Linked DNA regions of Homo sapiens: all the other regions are linked to region 1. Evidence: fine-mapped expression QTL. A gene starts in region 1. Each other region holds a variant in brackets. All regions are shown on one strand. Distances are between the middles of the regions. Region 1 holds the start of LINC01270 (long intergenic non-protein coding RNA 1270). Region 2 has its middle 29 kb from the start of CEBPB-AS1. Region 3 has its middle 18 kb from the start of LINC01271. Region 4 has its middle 3.0 kb from the start of CEBPB-AS1. Region 5 has its middle 16 kb from the start of CEBPB-AS1.

The links.
Region 2: its variant is fine-mapped to the expression of LINC01270 in whole blood (TOPMed, PIP 0.93).
Region 3: its variant is fine-mapped to the expression of LINC01270 in whole blood (INTERVAL, PIP above 0.99).
Region 4: its variant is fine-mapped to the expression of LINC01270 in whole blood (INTERVAL, PIP 0.94).
Region 5: its variant is fine-mapped to the expression of LINC01270 in whole blood (TOPMed, PIP above 0.99).

The regions. Positions count from the first base shown.
Region 1 is chr20:50,290,706-50,294,821 of GRCh38, reverse strand. It overlaps LINC01270 (long intergenic non-protein coding RNA 1270), which reads right to left and starts at 2,102. Exons shown (of 5, transcript NR_034124.1): 1 at 1,992-2,102. RefSeq lists enhancers at 199-699, 1,813-2,549.
Region 2 is chr20:50,218,790-50,222,905 of GRCh38, reverse strand. No RefSeq gene overlaps it. Among named protein-coding and RNA genes, the nearest start is that of CEBPB-AS1, 29 kb to the right of the region's middle. The variant G/C (reference allele first, on the strand shown) is at 1,895.
Region 3 is chr20:50,337,126-50,341,241 of GRCh38, reverse strand. No RefSeq gene overlaps it. Among named protein-coding and RNA genes, the nearest start is that of LINC01271, 18 kb to the right of the region's middle. RefSeq lists an enhancer at 1,929-2,128. The variant A/G (reference allele first, on the strand shown) is at 2,355.
Region 4 is chr20:50,192,996-50,197,111 of GRCh38, reverse strand. No RefSeq gene overlaps it. Among named protein-coding and RNA genes, the nearest start is that of CEBPB-AS1, 3.0 kb to the right of the region's middle. RefSeq lists an enhancer at 3,014-3,575. The variant C/G (reference allele first, on the strand shown) is at 1,567.
Region 5 is chr20:50,205,531-50,209,646 of GRCh38, reverse strand. No RefSeq gene overlaps it. Among named protein-coding and RNA genes, the nearest start is that of CEBPB-AS1, 16 kb to the right of the region's middle. The variant CTTA/A (reference allele first, on the strand shown) is at 2,323.

The sequences.
Region 1 (4,116 bases):
AGGCCTTCTGAAAGGGAGACCCTGACAATAACACTTCCTCACCCGGTCACTTTCCTGACTCCCAAGCAGTGATGAATTTCCCAGACAACGCCTGCACCTCACCGCCACCTCTGGGCCTGTCTGTGTGCTGCTTCCCCTACTGGGAACGCTCTCCCAGCCCTTCTGCCCCAGCCACAGCTTGGAGGTCACCTCCTCCGCCAGGAAGCCATCCAGGCAGCCCCACAGCCCACAGCTCTCGGGGCTGCAGGGATGAATGTGGGACCCTCTCCTCCACGGCCTGTGTTCTGGCTTCTGGCTTCTCCGGGGGAGTTGAACTCCCTCGATTCTCATGCCTGTCCAGCCACTGACCTTCTAGGGGAAGCTGGCTCGGGCCTCACTGAGCTCATCTGTGAGATGGGTAGAAGTTCTGAATGCGATCTCAGGCAGTCTTGCCATCTCTCACATAGGCTCCTGCCCAAGTCCCAGCCGCGGCTGCTCACTCAGCCCACCAAGCCCTGCATGGTCCAACCCCTGCTGGCCCTCCAGCACCATGTCCTGCTGCTGTCCCCTCCTCACACCCCTTCAGCCTCCTTGCCTTTCCTGGAACTTCCCAAACCCATTCCCACCCTCAGGGCCTTTGCACGTGCTGTGGTGAGTTTCCCTCTGCTGGAAATCTCTTCCCCAGGTCTGGTCCTTCTTCTCCTTCAGGCATCTGCTCCACATCACCGCCTCAGAAAAGCCCTCTCTGACCCACTCAGCTCCCAAACACCCCTGCTGATTCCCATCACGGCCCTTCTCTCTGGTGAAATCCTCTCGCCTCTTCAAGCATTTGCTCACCGATGTTTATCTCCTCCATCCTCTCCTCCACCATAGTGAGGGCAGAGACCTTGTTCACTGCTGGGTCCCCTGGAGCCTGGCATACAGTAGGTGCTCAAGCAGTGGTGGTGGAATGAAGGGAAGAACATCAAAGTGCTGCCCCACCCCTGCCCACCACCGGCCCCCAGCCCAAAATCAGGGAGTGGGAACCAGGAGGCCCCACTCCCGCCAGCAGCAGGCGCCCCCTCTGAGCCCGAGCCTGTCTGGTTCCCAGGCCCATAAAAACCACCGCCCTCACCTTGCCCTGGGGCGGCAAAGGGTGAAGGAGGAAGCTGTGGGGTTCAGAGATTGAACTGTCATGGATTCAGAGGCCTGGGCCAATGAAAGTCAGTGTTCACAGAGTGCCTTCTGCGTGTCCAGGTGCAGTTGAGACACCCCACACTCACAGCCCTCACTGCAGTTCTGCAAGATCAGGACCACCACGATCACCCTTCACAGGTGAGGAAACTGACGCACGGTAGGGTGCAGCCACGTGCTCCAGGCTGTGCAGCCTGAGAAAGGTGAAGTCAGCATTGGAACCCAGCTCCGCCCGACACCGCAGCCAGCATTGCTCTCATCCATGGCAGTGCACGGAGACCATGTCGGTGCCAGCTATGTGCCAGGTGCTGGTTCAGAGCACAGGTCCTGGAGCCAGACTGCTCAGTGCGTTAGGCAGGTGACTCAGCCCCTCTGTGCCTCAGTTTCTCCAGCTGTGAAACAGTCCACATGGCACCTCCCTTGTCGGCTGCTGAGGAGACGAAAGGAAATTATTTCCAGTCAAACAGAGTGCTCTTGTTGCATGCCCTTGGGAGAATTCATTCCCGCTCTGAGCCTCAGTTTCCCCATCTATCATATGGGGATTAAACTACGCCACTGTGTTGCATCGCTGCGAGACTAACGTGACGTATTTGCACAGTGCCTCCCGCACAGTGGACGTTTACTCAGAGCTCACTGTTCATTCACTCCAGTCCTGCAGGCCTCACTGTCCCCATCTGTAATCCCAGAAGGCAGCCCTGATCACCCAAGACGGCTGCTAAGTCCCTAGTGCAAAGGTCGAGGGGTCCCAGGGCAGCCCTGACAACTGGGGATATCCTGGGGGTGGGGAGGACAGCTGAGTGGCCGGGATCAGGAAGCTGCAGGGGGCCCAGGTGACTCACCCGCTGGCGGGGCTTGGGGGCTGGGCTGCGGCCCCCACGCACCCCTCTGGGCCCTGCCTTGTGCCCAAAAGTGCTGTGTCATGCTCCGTCATGTGGCTCCGGGTCATTAATACCCGAGTTCTGGGAAGCTTGGGCCGAGTTCCCGGAAGGGGTCAGCCAGTTCAGTAAACAGATTGGCTGGTTCGTCGTCACAGCTGAGCCGGGCGGGCCTGCAGCTCAAGAGGCAGGAGATGGAGGCTGGTGGCCAAGGGGACACAGGAACTGCCCCCGGCCCCATTCGGGGCTGGCACCTCCCAGGGCAGCCTGGCCCAGGCTCTGCAGATGAAAGGAGAAACCAAGGCCCAGAGAGGGCAAGGCAGTTGCCAGAGATCACACAGCAGGTCCGGGGCGCGGACCTAGAATTCTGGTCTTATCATCCAGTGCTCTCAGCATCACTCTGACTGATGGGCAGGGGGGGACAAATCACCTCAAATTGTAACCTAAGCCCCCCAAGCCCCCAAATCCTAACCTGGACCCTAAGGCCAGTGTGTTGGATGAAGGGAGAAATAAATGGAAGGCAACTTGGGAAGGAAGCAACTTTGAGGGGTTACTGGGCTGTCCCCTGTGGTCGATCCTATAATCATAGTAACTGCTTCTAGTGTTTCTTGAGCATCTATTATGTACAGGGCATTACCATAAGTGCCTTCCATAAATCCACCCATTTAATATTCAGCCACCTTTATACGAATAAACACAGGCATCACGTTTAAAGCATCCACTGAGTGCCAGGCACTGAGCTGGGTGATTGACATACACCACCCGGGATCCTCTGCGGACCTTGCCAGGGAGGCATCGCCGTCACCCCTGTTCATCAGATGAGGAAACAGATGCCCAGGAGGGCGAGCAGCTGAGGTGTATGGTGGGAGAACAGCAGGCTCCAGAGTCGACTAGACCCAGGGATTCAAATCTTTACTTTTACCCTTCCTGCTGTATGGCCTCAGGCAAGTGACTCCACCTCTCAGAGCCTCAGTTTACCCATCTGGTAAATGGGGATGATTATGGTACTGGAAACACTGGAGCCAGACTTGGTGGGAGCTCGTGAGTGTCATGATAGGGCAGTGGCTGGAGTGCAGACTTTTGGGTTGAATCTTGCTGTGCCCCTTCTTGGCTGTGTAACCTCGGGCATGCCGCTTAGCCTCTCTGGGACTCAGTGTCCTCTGTAAAATGGACATAGCACCTCCCTCATGCGGCAGGTGGGAAGAATGAATGAGCAGAAATCCCCGCAGCCTTCTGTGCGAGGCCAGGTATTCTGCAGCCACTGAACGCAGGTGACTTGTTCTTATATTTCACCTATGATGGCTCCACTGGGACTGGGGTGAGGGGAAGGACACTAGACCATGGGCAGAAGGACAAGGCACCCACATTCTTTGCTGCCCTTTTGCACCCACAAACAATCTGGAAAGGGAAGCTCAGCCTTGCCTGCCTCCTTGAGGGTCGGGGCTGAGGCTTGGCGTGAATGGTTGCCATGGCATCCTCCCCACCTCCCCACCAGCCACTCTGCCTTGCTATGGACTCCACGTTCCTCCCCTACTTAAAACCCTCTAGGGCTCCCCATTCCTCTTCTCGTGTACTACTCCCCAGTTTGGCTGAGCCCCAGACAGGCCTTATCATGGCTCTTTGGTTCTTGGCACCCCAGCCCCAGCCCCCTTGGTACAAACTCTCACACTCATCATTCCCACCTCACCCTTGTGCACACACAGGGCCCTTCACCCGGCATGCCCTCACTTTCCCTAACCCACCTGCCTGGTCTGGATTTCACCCACCCTTCAACGCACGTATTCAAAACCTCCTCCTCCAGGGAGACTGCCCTGATCCTCCCCTTTGAAAGCGAACTCTTTCTAGACTCTCTCTATATATATACCTCACTTACGTCTTTCTATCATTATATATCAACTATTTTTGTCCACCACCTCAAATTTTGGCAGCTGTGAGGTAGAAAATTTGCACAAGGGAGATTTTGGGGAAAAAATATTGCCTCTAAAATACTTAAAGAAATCTGCTGGCCAGGTGTGGTGGCTCACTACTGTAATCCCAGCACTTTGGGAGGCCGAGGCAGGTGGATCACTTGCAGTCAGGAGTTGGAGAC
Region 2 (4,116 bases), 72 kb after region 1:
AGAGCATGGGTGTGGGTTGGGCAGTCGGAGCTACTTGACAGGGTGGTCAGGGAAGCCGTCTCCACAGCAGCCTGTTCTGGGCACCAGCCTCGAGCCATCAGCCAGAGAAAGGACACTTGTGATGTTTGCTGAAGCATCATCTGGGCCAACAGCCACCCCTCCTGCGCGCCCATTCACTGATTGAACAAATCTCTGTGGAGCCCCTACTGTGTGCGGGGCCCTGTGCTGAGTGCTCAGAAAGCATCGTGATCACCACAGACAGCAGTCCCTGCAGTGTGGAAGGTGACATACTAAAGAGATAGACAGGCATTGACCAAACAAATAACAGATGTATAACATGATGGCAAGTAGGGAAGAAAGATGAAAGGGCTGGAGTGATGGTGGAGGTGACAGTTCAGCAGGTAGCCGGGGAAGGCTTCCCTGAGGAGGTGACATTGCGATGAGATCTGAATAAAGTGGCACATCCAGCTGGGGGAAAGAGCTGAAGGAACTGCATTCCAGGCAGCAGGAACAGCAAGTGCAAAGGCCCTAGTTAGGTCATGCCCAGTGTGTTGGAGGAATAGCAAGGGGCCCGGTGTGGCTGGAGTGAGTGAGCAAGTAAGAAAGGAGGGAGGATGAGGTCAGAAAGGCCATGGGGGCCAGATCAGACAGGGCCCTGTGATCCTGGGAAAGACCTCAGGTTTTGCTCTGCAGCTGGAGCCAAGGAAGGTTCTAAACAGAGGAAAGATGGGATCTGAGTGGGGTTCTAACAGCATCCCTTTGGCTGCACGGGGGAAGTGGGGCGTGACGATGACAGCAGTGAAAGCAGCAAGGAGGCTACTGCAGGAGAGAGAATGGTGGCCTTGAATTCAGCTGTGGAAGCGGAGGGGAAAACCTACGCAGGTTCTGGATGTTTTAAAGGTGGCGCTGACAGGATTTCCTGGCCAGTTATCGAATGCAGGGCAAGAGAGGAAATGAAGGGACAACCCGAGGTTTGGGCCTGAGCACCCAGAAGGATGGAGCTGCCATTTCCTAAGAATCAGGGACTATGACGGCCCCAGTGCTGGGGTCTGTCGTCCGCATTCCCTGCAAGCTCCCTGCTGACCCCCACCCCATTCTCTCTCGGGTCAGGGCCATGGAGGGAGAGAGTGAGCAGTCGGCCCTACCCAGGCTTCCGGGCAGGAAAGAGGCACCCAGGGCCTGGCCACAGGATGACACAACCCTTAATAATTTCTCCGCTGAGTTTTGCAATGGGCACCCTTTATCGACAGGCAAAGGGTGAGGGATTTTGCAACTGCCCCAACTGGTGGTTGTAGCTGATGTCAGGCCAGAGGGCTATCAGGCCAGGCTATGGGCATCTTCTCAACCCATGAGGATTGAGTCGCAAACAGGCCATCCAGGCCTGAGCCATCGTGGGTGGTATAGAGGGCCTCAGGGCCCACAGGGTTCAAACCTCAGACCCTCCACCTGGCCAATGACTTTGGGCAAGTCCCTTCCCCTCCCTGGACCTCAGCTCTTTCCCTTAAAAAAAAAATAAAAAAAATAAGGAGAGCCATTAAAGGAATTATTTTAAATTACTTAAAAGCTTGTATCCAATGGCCCGGTTAACGTTCATCCAGTGCTTCCTGTGTACCCGGCCCTGTGCTAAGAACCCTCTGGCAGCACCTCATCCGATCCCCATGTCACCCTTAAACTTATTTCCCCACTTTACAAATGGGGAAACTGATGCTTAGGAGGAGGAAATGACTGCCTAGGTCCCCCAGCCTGTCAGGGATGGAGCGGGGACTCGGACCCAGACCTTTCCGACCCCAAAGCCTACACCCCGTTGTTAGGAAGTCGCTGCCACGCTGAGATGTAGTTTCCTCGTTTGTAAATGGGAAGTCCAAACTAAATAGAAATTAAGCAGCACCACCCT[G/C]GTGGGGTTGGTGCCTGGCACCTGGGGAGCATTCAAACCCAGCAGCCATTCTTATGACCAGAACACTCGTCACTGGCACACAGAGCTGGCGGCCAGCACCACCCCTAAGGGTACCCCCATGCCCCACCCTCACCCCTCCTGGCCCCACACTGGCCCTGTGGGGCACAGACAGGACACAGGCTTTAGAAACATGCACTCCGTGGTCCAGATCCCCCTTCCACCCTCTCGCCATGCCCCTGGGCACTGCCTCCCCCTTCCACTGGGGGTGACAATTCCCTTCCACCACACAAGGCTGTTTCTGGGTCACAGGAGGCCACAGGTCCATGTTAGGCCCAGTGTGTGGACACAGCTCCATTTGACACAGGAGGATCCAAGGCCCAGTCTGGAAAAGGGGCTTGCCTGGGACTTTCAGCCAAAGAGAACGAGGTGCGGTCACCACGCCCACTGGAAGAGGGCCTCTGCCTGCTCCAGGCCTGATGCAAAAGCTTGCCCGGCAAAGCCTCTGTCTCTGGGTCTCTCCCCTCTTTATTTCTCAGCCTCTCTCTTTCCCTCTGTGTCTCTCACATCAGTTCTTTCAGGGTGTCTCTCTGTGTCTCTCCATCTCACCCCCATGTCTCCCTGTCTCACTATCTGTACCTCTGGCCTAGGTGGTGTCTTCCCCACACACTCATCTGCTGGGCTCACCACCTCCTCTGCATTCCTGGCTCTGTAAATGTTTACTGAGGTGAAGGTGTCTGGCCGCCTCATTTGCTTGAAACCCTCACCCAGCACCGCCCCCTTCTCACCTCCACCACCCAAGGGCTCCCCAGGGAGGAAGGACAGGTGGGGGACCCACAGCCCTAGGAATAGTCAAAATGACCCAAGTTCAGGGGTCTGCGCTCGTAGGCAGCCAGATCCCCGCTCAGTGGGTGTGGGTGGACTCCACCCACGACATTCGAGGCACAGATGCTGATTAGGTCCCCTTCCCCACTTGCAGCAATTGGCAGAGGCTGGACATGGAATGCATCTGTGGCCAGTGAGATGGGGAAGTCTGCCAAGGGGCTTCTGGGAATGGTTTCTTCATTCTTAACAGGACATGTGAGGGCCTTTCCTGCTTGGCTGTATGAGGAAGAGATGGCAGGAGCTTTGGCAGCCATCGTGGCACCATGAGGAGCTGGGCTGAGTGGAGACGGCAGAACCATGAGATAGGAAGAAACTGGGGCCTTGATAGTGCCCAGCTCTGACTCACCCAGCTATGATTCATTCAGTCATTCAACAAATATGGATTGAGCACCTACTATGTGCCAAGCCCACGATGGGCGCTGGGAACACAGAAGGAACATGATCCCTGCCTTACATTCTGGGGTGGGGGACAGATTTCAATCAAATAATCATCCAAGCAAGTGTAAAAACACAGCCATAGTCAGGGCTGCAAGGAGAGATCCATGGAGAAGAGACCAGAAAGGGGGACAGGGAGGGCAGGGAAGGCATCTTAGGTCAGGTTGCCCAGAAGAGGAGCCTGACTTGGGGACTGGCATGCACGTGATTCACTGAGGACATGCTTTTGGGAGAAGGGTGCGAGAAGCAGGACAGGGCAAGGTGGGAGCTAAGCCAGGATATGGCCTCCGCTGAGTCTCACTTGGCCTGATCCCCCGGGGAGCTCTGGAACGTGAATTGCACCACCACACTCCTCCCACCTCAAAGTAAGAGGCCTGAGTCCTGGTCTCATTGGTCACTGGCTGTGTCCACCTCTGTTTGGGGGATGGGAGGCAGCTCCTGCTCAGCGAGGCAGGACTCCAGCTTTAAGGGGCCCCAGCTGGGAGCCCACAGCAGCCAACACTGTGTGGCAGCAGGAAGATGCATGCAGATCCCACCAAAGAGGCTCTGGGGAATCCCCACAGCACCTGCTACCAGAGGTCCACCTGATCTGAGATCTGGCATTAACTAGGTGAAGAGGAGAAACGAAAGTGTTCCAGTAGAGAAAGCAAAGTGTGCCAAGGCCCTGTGGCAGGTGGGAGCTGGGTGCAATGGAAAGAAAACCAAGGTGGCTCTAGCAGGGCAAGTGACAGTGAGAGTGGCCAGAGATCAGGGGAGGGGGCCGCCACTGTGCAGCACCTGTGGGTCTGGATAAGGAGGCCAATCTTTATTCTGAAGGCAGTAGGAGCCCTGGAGGCTGTGGAGCAGGGGAGGAGCGTGACCCAGCTCATGTTTTTTTGTTTGTTTGTTTGTTTAGATAAGTTCTC
Region 3 (4,116 bases), 46 kb before region 1:
AGGACACCAGGGGTCTCCTAGTCTCAGAGCCTTCTGCCGGATCCAGGAGCTCCTCAAGCGTCTGCCCTTTCTGGGACAGAACTTTCCAGCAACAGAAAGTTGAGGAAGCCCCTCTCTGGAAACCCTGAGCCTCCTTGATGGGGCTTGCATTCTGCTTTGGGGCAGAATGTGGGACTGTGGGACAGGAGGACGGGGCGTGAACCCCAGTCCTAAGCCCAGATGTCGGCTGGAGATCCTCAAAGCCAGGGCCTCTTCTCAAGAGTCTGATGGCCCCACCAGCCATTTCTCTCACCCAGACCCCAAGTCAGACTGGACACTGTCACCATTGTCCTGGAGGCCAAGAGACCCGCAGACCAGAATTCAAAGCCTTGCCCCGCTGCGGGCTGAGACAGTCGCTTGGGCTCTGTGGTCTCATTCCTGCATCTGTAAAATGCATCCTTCCATTGTAGGAATTCAACAAGCACATGACATGGGGCTGGTGCTGGGCAGAGGAGAGAAGAAGTGACAGTGAGCACGCACCCTGGGCTGGTGCTGAACCCGCCACACACGTCCTTCTTCCCTTCTCACCACAAAACCCTGCATCTGTTCATTCAATGCTGGATGAGTGCCCCCTATGTGCCAGGCTCTGAGATTTAATGGAGGACAGTGGAGAACTGGCCTCTGCCTGCTGGGAGCTTACAGTCTGGCCAATGGGGAGTTATGAACCCCCTAAATTATTGTGTCAAGTAGTGGTCAGTGTTATGGGAAAACATTCACGCAGGGTGAAGAGGTAAGGCCAGGGGAGCAATTTGGAAGGGCCGGGGGTCAGAGCAGGACCCCCGGGGTCATTTAAGCAGACACCCAGATCAGGAGAGGGAAGAAGCCCTGTGGCTATCTGGAGGAAGGATGCTGAAGGCAGCGGAAACAGTGTGTGCAAAAGCCCCGAGGTAGGCGTGTGCTTAGCATGTTGGAGGAACAAAGAGGAGCCCAGTGTGGCAGGGGTAGAGGGAACCAGAGAGAGTGAGTAAGAGGAGATGGGCCAGGCGCGGTGACTCACACCTGTAATCCCAAGCACTTTGGAAGGCCAAGGTGGGCAGATCACTTGAGCTCAGGAGTTCGAGACCAGCCTGGGCAACATGGCAAAACCCCATCTCTACTACAAAAAATACAAAAATTAGCTGGCCGTGGAGGCATGTGTCTGTAGTCCTACCTATCTGGGAGGCTGAGGTGAGAGGATGACTTGAGCCCAGGAGGTTGAGGCTGTAGTGAGATGTGTTGGCACCACTGCACTCCAGCCTGGGTGACAAAGTGAGACCCTGTCTTAAAAAAAAAAAAAAAAAAAGAGACAGAGAGAGAGAGATGAGGTTATAAGGGAAGCATGGGAAAGATCTTGTAGGGCCTGGTAGGCCACAGAGATCTTTGACTTTCTGCCAAGTGAGGTGGGAGCCGTGGGAGGGTTTTGAGCACAGGAAGGTCATGTCCTGACCTCCTATACTCATCCTCATCTTAAAGGTGAGGAAACTGAGTCTCAGAGAGGTGAAGTTACCCACCCAAGGTCACACAGCCAGCAAGTGGCAGAGCTGGAGTTTGCCCCCACATCCCTGTGGCTCCCAAAGCCAGCCTCTTCCCATCCCATCAGCTGCCTCTGTGTCTGGCGTGAGTCAGGAGGCTGGATTGCTGGGAGGGGGAGAGCTTTTTAGAGCTGCTTTTTGGAGCCTCCTGGCTCTGCCTGGCACATCCCCTCCTTCCCCACCCATGCCTTCTCCCTTGCCCTCAGCCACCCCCAGCTGCCTGCGGTGAGTGCCTAACATTTAAGGCTATCCCCTCCCAAGTGCAGATTGGATTTTTTTCTTTCCATAAGTCCCCATTATGCCCCAGTAGACTGGATTTTGGGCAATAGAAAAAACGAGCCTAAAGAACTCCAGCGCTAATTGGGGGTGACAGGCAGGGGCTCGGGGCCTCTGGAGCAGCCTGGCTCTGTCTCTAATTTGCAGAGTGGCCAGGGTAAGTCCCTGGCTTCCAAAGTCATGCTTGTTTGAAGGACAATCACTTTCTTTTTCTTGTAAAAGGAAGATAAATTGTCAGCCTGTCGGTTTCATTATGAGCTCGTCCGCTGTCTTTCCAGTAACTGAGGGCGAGAGGCTGAGCCGCTGCCCAGAGGCTGCCTGTGAGGCCTTGGGGGCTGTGGTTGATGCCACCTGGCCTCCTTCGCATCACCTCCCTCTCAACACCCCTCCCACCCCCTCCAATAATTGTGGTATTTGGTTTTCCCTCAACACCAAATGTGAAACTCTCCTGGAGGGAGTGCAAAAGGAAGTCTGTGAATCTCTGAACTGTGGTTGAATGAAGGTATTCTTAGGCGCCTGCTTGCAAGG[A/G]TGGTGAACTTCTGGTGCTAAAAGCAGAATTGCTTTTCAGTAAATGTTATTACTCAAAAGGAAGTTGTTACCACCACAGCCACCTCGAGCCTCTTCCAACTGCCACTCTGTCTGCCAGGCCAAGTGGGGAAAGGGTCTCTCAGTGGCTCCCAATGACCCCATCCAGCCCCCAGGGGAAGGTCTTGCTATCTCAGCTGACCCTGGAGGCCTGAAGCTGAAGTGCAAACAACCACAGTCTGCCTAGGCAGAGTATCTCAAGGTAGGGGCTGTTTGCTGACTCAGCATTTAAAAGTCCCAAAGCTTGAGTGATCTTGGCTGAGCTGGGCTGGAGCTACAGGTGGGGTTGGGGGCACACAAGAAAGCTGCCCGTTGGCTGCAAGGTTGGCTGTTTTTTGAGAGCTGTTGTCCATCTTGGCAATGCACCTTGCCTAACCCCTATTTCCTCTTCTCTAAAATGGAAAGGTGATCATACCTCAATGGAAAGAGCTAGCATATTGATTACTCTAGTAGATACTTAATAAGTGGTGAGGTTATTATCAACAGTGAAAATGATTCTGGATTTAAATCAGACAGACCAGGGCTCAGATCTCAGCTCTGCCACCTACTAGTTGCACAACCTTGGACAAGTCCATTCCCCTCACCAAGTCTCGGTTTTCTCTGGATCACGCAGGAGTGATTATAGCACCTACTGCTCAAAGTTGTTGGGAGAATTCCGTGAGCTGCAGCACGTAAGTCACAAGGCACACAATAGGTATGCAGTAGGCATGGGTTCCACTCCTGCTCCATTTTGCCTTACAGAGGATCACCCCCCAGGCTGTGTCCCCACCTGAGCAGTCCCAACCACAGGCTCCAGGTGGAGAGACACCCATGAAAGTTTGCACCCACCGGGGTCCAGAGGGCAGACAAGAAGCGACCAGGCCAAACTCAGGGGAGTGGAATGGACCACTCAGCAGACACTTCCCTGCAAGAAAGAAGTCAAAACAAACCCCCTGGCTGGTGAGACATGATCCCAATCTAGAGCTCTCAGAGGATGCTCTCGGGTCCAATCCTCTGCCTGCCTCTACCTGTAGCCTTTTCTACAGCCCGGAAAAGTGGCAATTTCATTTACTGGGCAGCCACTGCAAGTGAGCATTGTGCTCTGCATGTCTCATGAATCACGTCATCGTGTCCCCCCAGCAACCCCACGAGACAGTTCCTCTCATTGCTCAGCACCTGCAGGTGTGGAAACTGAGGCCCAAGGAGGTGAAGGGACTGGTAGCTGAGATTTGAACCCAGCCCATCCCATTGTCAAGTCACACACATAATCACCGCACTACTTCCGTTATCTGAGAACAGTGTGTCTGTGTTACCAAAGATATAATTATATTTAGTAGTGTCTGGGTATAGAAAATTGTATAATATATTCTTTTTAAAATGTATTCTTTTGAGATTATTATAGATTTACATGCAGTTGTAAGAAATAAACAGAGAGAGTCCATATACCCTTTCCAGTTTCCCCCAATGTTAACAGTCACAATAAAGATATTGACAGTGATATAGTCAAGATACAGACATTTCTATCACCACGAGGATCCCTCATTGCCCTTGTATAACCAAACCCATCTCCCACCCCCAACCCTGCCCCCGAGCCATGGCAACCACTAATCTGTTCTCCATTTCTATAATTGTGTGGTTTCAAGAATGTTACATAAATGGAATCATATAGTTTATGTAACCTTTGAGGACTGGTTTTTTTCACTCAGCATAATTCTCTGAAGATTTA
Region 4 (4,116 bases), 98 kb after region 1:
GCCCCGGCCAATGCACCATCAAAAATCCCACAGGGAGCGGGGACTGCTGGGACGCCATCACAGGCCACGCAGGAGATTGGCCAAGCTGAGAAAGAACTCAGGAGGGGGTGGAAGGGCAGGACAGGAAAACAGCAAAGGAGAGGCTCAGGGCCATGGGGGAAAACAGGCAGAGAAGGCCTCTCAGGTTCAAATGCAAGGTGAGAATTCAAACCTCACATCAGCCACTCACCAGCTCTTGGACCGGTGACTTCACCTTTCTGTGCCTCATTTTCCCCATCTGGGGAGGGGGAGTAATAAGTAGCACCCATGGCCGGGTGCAGTGGCTCAGGCCTGTAATCCCAGCATTTTGGGAGACTGAGATGGGCAGATTACTTGAGGTCAGGAGTTCGAGACCAGCCTGGCCAACATGGTGAAACCCCATCTTTATGAAAAACACAAAAATTAGCCGGGCATGGTGGAGCAAGCCTGTAATGCCAGCTACTTGGGAAGCTGAAGCAGGAGAAGTGCTTGAATCCAGGAGGCGGATCTTGCAGTGAGCCGGGATCATGCCACTGCACTACAGCCTGGGTGACAGAGTGAGACTCCTTTAAAAAAAAAAAAAAAAAAAAAAGCACCTACATCATTGGGATTTTAAGAATAAGGCATGCAGGACACCAGCAGGTGCAAAGTGAGCATCCAGTAAACTGCAGCCCACCATACTCCTGACTCCCTGGGCTCAGGGGTCTCTGCTCAGATGCCACTTCCTAGGAGGGGCCTCGCAGGACCGCTCCCACTCACCTCTGCCCCACTTTCCTTCCTGCAGAGCCCTTGACTCCATCTGCCATTATCTTGTTCCAGTCACTGGATACTTAGCATCTGTGTCTCCCTGAAAATTATCACCTCCATCTTGGCCACCACATGTCCCCAACACCCAGTAAGGGGCCTAGCACACAGCGGGTGCTCAATAAATGTTTGTCAAATAAATGAAAAATATAACTGGGCAAAAAAACGACTGAGAAACTGGGAGAAAACAGTCTCAGAGAGGTCTGGACAAAACTTGGAAGGCAGGGGAATATTCTTTTTTTTTTTTTTTGAGACAGAGGCACGCTCGCTCTGTCGCCCAGGTTGGAGTGCAGTGGTGCGACCTTGGCTCACTGCAACCTCCGCCTCTGTGATTCAAGTGATACTCATGTCTCAGCCTCCTGAGTAGCTGGGACTACAGGCACCCACCGCCACACTAGGCTAATTTTTGTATTTTTTTAGTAGAGACCATTTTGCCCGGGGTTGGTCTCAAACTCCTGACCTCAAATGATCTGCCGTCCTCAGCCTCCCAAAATGTTGGAATTACAGGCGTGAGCCACCTCGCCCAGCCTGCAGGGAAATATTCTTCAGGTGTTCAGAAGGAGCAGTTCCCCTTCTCACTCCCACTCCAGCTTCTGCCATTCTTAGCTGTGCAAACTTAAGACAGGTCAGTTCACCTCTCTAAGCTGGTTTGCACAGCAGCAAAATGCTAGTAACAAAAGCTGCAGCCTCCAAAAGGCTAATGAGTTGATTAAACCAAGGAGCACAGTGTCAGTGTGGAACCGG[C/G]ACCCAGCAGTGTCTCGAGCGTTCATTTCTGACATCCACTTATCTCCTTGCTAAAATCACCAGGCCGTGGGACAATTGCATAAGATTATGAGGTGTGAATGTGTCTTGTTTTGTGAACTCTCTTGTCCTGAGCAAACATTAGTTGGGGTTCCAGGCTCCCACCTCCCAGCTAGCCTCAGTGGTCAAACACACTAAATGGGTCTGTGGTTAACATGACCGGCTTTCTCCCACATATCTAAGGACCCAGCACCTCCCTCTGTGCCAAGGGCTTGGAGTGGTGCTTTGCACATCTAAGCCCTTGTCTCACACCTGCTATTATCATGATTCCTCAAGGCTCGTCCCTGGCCTCCTGGGCTCGCCTCACCCCATCCCACCCCCTCCTGTTTCTGGATGTCGGAATGGACTGGTTCCTCCCTGCGAGCCCTTCACCCTTGCAGCTTGGTGAACTGTGGGGTTGGTGTTGCCCTAACTATGACATCTCCCCAAGTCCTTTGGGCACAGCTCCGTCCACAGTGCTCCCATACCAAGCCACCGTCAAAGCCCTCAACCTGTGAACTGCTTCTCCCAGCCCTCCTTAGAGGCAGCCCAAGGGGTTCAGGTTCAAATTCACTTTCTGTTGCTTCCAAACTGTGAAACTGATGTTTGCAGTTCTGGGGCTTGGAGTGCCTGAACTTGAGGTCAGGCAAGGAGCCCTCCAAGAAGAGCCTGGGATTTTAAACAGGAACTGGGATTACAAACCAGGCTCCCAGCCCCAAACTTTCCCCATAGACTTGGGAGTCGGATGGTTTTGTAACCTGCTCCACCTAGCCCACCTTGAGCACAAACCTCACTTCTGTGGACCTCAATGTGTGCTTTTAGAAATGGGTCTAGCACCTTCTGTGGGGTACTGTGGATGAGAGCAAGATGTGAGTGTGTGAAGAACTGACTCAACGCTGGTTCCAGGACAGCACTGGGGAAACAGAAGCGAAGCTGTGGGGCAGACGGGGGCGGAAGAGGGGCACCGTCTGGCCAGGCTGCTTCCCTCTCACCTCATTTGGGTGAGCAGTGGCCACCAGCCAACTCTTGGTGACAAAGGAGGGAGCAGGGATTTGAGATTTGTTCCTCAATTTCGACCCTCTCCACCTCCCTCCTTCCCTAGGTCCAGCCCCTCAGCCTCTGCCTTCAGCAAGTAAATCCTTGAGGTCAAGCCCACATTGCTGTCGCTGCTACTGACAGAAACCATCGAGACCAGTGGGGCTTGGGACTGAACTGACTTCGAGGCTTTGAAGGCATGCCCGGCCAGTTGTCCAGTTGCCCAGGGCTGGGAGGGGACGTGGTCAGGGCCACGCTGCAGGTCCCAGGTTGAAGTGAGGTTATCTGTGTCCAGCAATCTGCATAGCCCTCGAGCCACCATCAGGAGACACTGGCATTAGGGAGGTGGAGCTTATAGGAATCCTCCGCTTTGTGGCGGTGGGGGATGAGTGTCGCTGTCTGTTCCCCACATCCCAGGCTCCCACAGGGAAAGCACAACCAGGCCCCCAAAAGGAAAAGGAGGGGCAAAGCATTTCCCATTCGCGAACCACGGTATCAGCAACTGCTCCTGAGATCCCAGACCGCCCCAGGTCCTTGGCAAACCAGGCTACGATGCCTGCTGCCCCTGAATTCCTCAGGGCAGGGCAACCCCCAACCAGTGTCTTGCCCATAGGGATCGGACAGCCCAAAGCTGCTCCCCACCTCTAAAAACAGGCGTCATAACAATCCCCACCTTCCCAAAGGTTATTGTGAGGTCTAAATGGGATGGGGCAGGTCCAGTGTTTACCAGATGCCGGCCCCTGGCAAGTACTGGCCACACTGGCGCTGCACTGGAGACTGGGGTGCCAAATGCCAGCAGCTTCCCAGCAAAAAATAATAACAAGAGCAAGCGCTTATATAACACTTCTTGCGTGCCAGGCACTGTGGGACGCTGTACATGTATCCACTCACATCCATCTACATCCTCAACTCTCAGGAATGCCATCCAGGGCTGGATGGGAGTAGGGGGTGCGGTGAGAAGCCGGAAGGGGCAAAGGGATCAGTGGGCAGGGAAGAGGAGCCTGTCCCAGGGAATCAGGGCTAGCAGCCCCACGTTTGTGCCTGGGCTCAGCCACCTTGAGCAGGCAGGTGAGGTGGGCTCAGTGTCCAAGTCTGGGCAAAGAGAGCAAGTGATGAGCCTCCCATCCTCAGGAAAGGTAATCAAAGTGTGGGAACCCCTCCCCCACCTCTCTCCACCTGGCCTGGCCTCTCCCCTCCTGCTGGCCAGGGACACACAAACACAGACTCGCCCACACACCCAGGCTCCCCTCTTTAAAATACACATGTATACACAAACTGTGTTTTAAACAACCCACCCCACTACACTGACCAAAAGCATCTGCCCTGACTCGGGCTCAGCAGGACCAAGACCTGAACCCCCTCCTCCTACAGTCACAGGCCTGCCTACCTAGTCCCCAAACACAGGGCAGGGGTCACAGACCTCCCAGCCCTTCCAAACCCAAGCCTGACACTCGGGACCAGCCAGAGGCTCCGGAATCT
Region 5 (4,116 bases), 85 kb after region 1:
GGCATGGTGGCTCACGCCTGTAATCCCAGCACTTTGGGAGGACAAGGCGGGTGGATCATAAGGTCAAGAGATCAAGACCATCCTGGCCAATACGGTGAAACCCTGTCTCTACTAAAAATACAAAAATTAGCTGGGCATGGTGGCACTCACCTGTAGTCCCAGCTACTCAGGAGGCTGAGGCAGGAGAATCACTTAGAACCTGGGAGGTGGAGTTTGCAGTGAGCCGAGATCTTGCCACTGCACTCCAGCCTGGTGACAGAGTGAGACTCTGTCTCAAAAAAAAACAAAAAAAAAAAAAAAAAAAAAATATATATATATATATATATATATATATATATATATATATATATATGTATAAAATTAGCCAGGCGTGGTGATGGGTGTCTGAAATCCCAGCTATTCAGGAGGCAAGAGAATCGCTTGAGCCCAGGAGGCAGAGGTTGCAGTGAGCAGAGATGGCGCCACTGCACTCCAGCCCGGGCAACAGAGTGAGACTCTGTCTCAAAAAATAAAAATAAAAATAAATAAAAATTACCCGGGCATGGTGGCATGTGCATGTAATCCCAGATAATCAGGAGGCTGAGGCGGGAGGATCACTTGAGCTTGGGAGGTTGAGGCTGCAGTGAGTCATGATCACACCACTGCACTCCAGCCTGGACAACAGAGCAAGACTCTATCTAAAAAAAAGAAGAGAGAGAGAATTTCAAGATGACAACAGCAGACCTGTAAACCAAGTGGGGGCCCTTCCAAACAAGGGGCTCTGTGGAATTGCCTAGATGGTACTCCCATGAAGCCACCCTGGTTCTACCCTAGCTTACCAAGAGCTTTCACAAAAACCAGCATAGAAAGTTTTCTGATAACCTTCAGGCAGTCAGAAAGCTCCTTTCTCTAGAACTTTCCATTCCATGCCAGCTGTTTTCACATGTTGGTGTTTGTAAGGCCTTAGAGCAACAGGGGCTCCCCTCTCCCAAGGAGCAATAACATCAACAACAGCAATAGCAGCTGCCATTATTGGACAATTAGCACATGCCGGCATGGTGTTGAGTTCTGCACACTTTTGACTCCTCGACTCTGCTCACCAATGCTATTAAGTAAATGCTGTCATAGGCAGGCTCTGAAAGTGGAAACGGAGGTACAAAGTAGGCCACTCACCCCAGGTTGCAGAGCCAGAAAGAAGAAGAACTGGGATTCACACCCAACCCTGCAGGGCTCCAGAGTCCACACGCTGGCCCAGGAAGGAAGGCAAAGGCCGGCGGGAGGTGGACGGAGGGTGGCAGAGCCACCCTAGGCCAGGGAGGGAAGGCTCCAGGGATGGGAGCCACCCTTTGCTCCACTGACTCCCCTCCCGACTTGGAGCTGTGAGCTCTGAGCTGCAATGGTCTTTGCCAAGCAGTCATTTCGCCATCCCCTGCCAGACCCTAGGGACCTCTGGGAGCACAGCAGAGCTGTCCAGCCCGGAGAGTCCAGGCCAGAGCACTGGGTAAGGAGCACACTCTGGGGTTCCTCAGACCCAGGTTCAAATCCTGCCTCTGCCACCCACCAGCTGTGTGACCTCAGACAAGGTACACTCCCCCTCTGAGCTCCTGGGTCTTTTTTGGCTTTTCTTTTTGAACCTCAGGTGTGCAGGGTGACGTTATCTGATGCCTCAATTCGCAACATGTTATCATGATTGCCCACACAGGCTGCCCTCTAGTTGTATTCATTTATTCCCTTTCACCCCAATCCCTACTCCCTGCCCACCTGACTCTCCTATGTTCAATGTGCAGCATGAGTTCATTGATTTTAGGTTTCTACTTTGATGCTGGCGTTTAACATATGTACAGTAAAGCGCATAAACAGACAGCTCAATGAACTCTTCTTTGTTGTTGTTGTTGTTGTTGTTGTTGTTGAGACAGGGTCTTGCTCTGTCACTCAGGCTGGAGTGCAGTGCCACAACCATGGCTCACTACAGCCTTGACTTCCTGGGTTCAAGCGATCCTCCCACCTCAGCCTCCTGAGTAACTGGGACTACAGGTGTATACCACCATATCTAGCTAATATTATTTATTTTTTGTAGAGACTGTGTCTCCCTACATTGCCCAGGCTGGTCTGGAACTCCTGGGCTCAAGTGATCCTCCCACCTCGGCCTCCCAAAGTGCTGGGGTTACAGGTGTGAGCCACTATGCCTGGCCTGAATTCTTATATATGGATAAATTCATGGAACTACCACCTGGGGTAAAACATAGGAATTTTGCAGATCCCAGAAGTCTTCCTCATGTCCCACTGCAGGCAATGACTCCTCTACCCCACAGAAGGAACCACTTTTGTGCCTTCTAGATTCAT[CTTA/A]CCTGTTCTTGAACTTCATATCAGAGGAATCACACAGAAAGTCGTCTTTTGTGTCTGGCTTCTTTCCCTCAGCATAATGCTTTTAACATTAATCTATAGTGTGCATGGGCTGGGCATGGTGGCTCATGCCTGGAGGGTTTGGGGATAAAGTGATGTCATGTCTACAGCTGCCTCTCAAATAATTCAGGCAAAAGAAAAAAATACAAATGGGGGAAAAGACAAAGTGGGGAAAAATATAAACAATATAGCTGAAGGATATCCTGAAGTTTCTTTTCTTTTTTTGGGACAGAGTCTTGCTCTGTCACCCAGGCTGGAGTGCAGTGGCGTGATCTCGGCTCATGCGACCTCCGCCTCCTGGGTTCAACCCATTCTCCTGCCTCAGCCTCCCAAGTAGCTGGGATTACAGGTGCGTGCCTCCACACCCAGCTAATTTTTGTATTTTTAGTAGAGACGGGGTTTTGCCATGTTGGCCAGTCTGGTCTCAAACTCCTGACCTCCAGTGATCCACCTGCCTTGGCCTCTCAAAGTGCTGGGATTACAGGCGTGAGCCACCAACCCTGGCCCAGCTGCTACTTTCTACCAGGGCCCAACAGGCGGGAAAGAAAAGGCAGATTCAGACCCTTCAGCATCACCCAGGACTTGAGGAAGGGAGTCCACATTGCACAAATGGGGTTTTGCCGCCTAAGACTTGTTTTTTTCTGCGTTTACAAGGGTTCAAATCAGTGCCGTTGGAGAGTGTTTGAGGCTGTCACAACATCTGGGGAACTGAGGCGTGGGGCATTCACATGGCTGTCAGGAGGAGGCCTTGGGCTCAAATTGTAGGGGGCGTGGGATCTTAAACCATCATTGGCAGCCAGACTGATGGGCAGGGTAGTGACACACTAAGATCCTGTCATCTTTGCTAGGCTCTGGTTTTATGGGATCTAAGGTTTTCCGTGGTTCTAGTTCCAGGTGGAGAGTGACAACTAACTCTGGCATGTTGCACATTCTCAGTAAATGAATTGTGGAGTAAATTCCTTGTGATGATAATTGATATTTATTGAGCATTTACTATATGCCAGGCAGTATTCTAAGCACTTTGCACCTATCATCTCCATTAATCCTCTCCACATCTTGTGAGATAGGTACTATTATTACCATCATTATTTTGTAAACAGGAAACTGAGGAACCGAGAAGTTAAGCCACATGCCCAAAGTCACAAGTTGTTAAGAGGAATATAAATGAATGAATGAATGAATGAATGGCAGTCCCTATCTAGATTAGCATTTTTCTTTTAAACATTACTGAAGCGAAAGTCCAGTTGCAACTCTTCTTGGGGAATAACAATCCAGCCCAAGCTCCCTGACTCCCTGTTCTCTCCAAGTCAGCCTCTCTCCTTCTCATTGCTTAAGGGGAAGTGTCCCCCATCCTGAGCCTGAGGTAGCTCGAGCTCCAGCCTTAGAAACACAAAGACCTGGGGCCCTAATGTGATGGGGACCCTATCATGTCCCAAGATCGCACGCATGTAGCTTCCTTTAGTTGTATATAGGCTCTTTTGGCCTGAAACAGTTCCTTTCTCAGTCTCTCCTTGACCCACATGACCTTGACATGTTCGAGGATGCAGGCCAGCTATTTTTTTTTTTTTTTTTTTTTTTGAGACGGAATCTCGCTCTGTTGCCAGGCTGGAGTGCTGTGGTGCAATCTAGGCTCAGCTCACTGCAACCTCCGCCTCCCGGGTTCAAGCAATTCTCCTGCCTCAGCCTCCCAAGTAGCTGGGACTATAGGTGCAGGCCACCATGCCTGGCTAATTT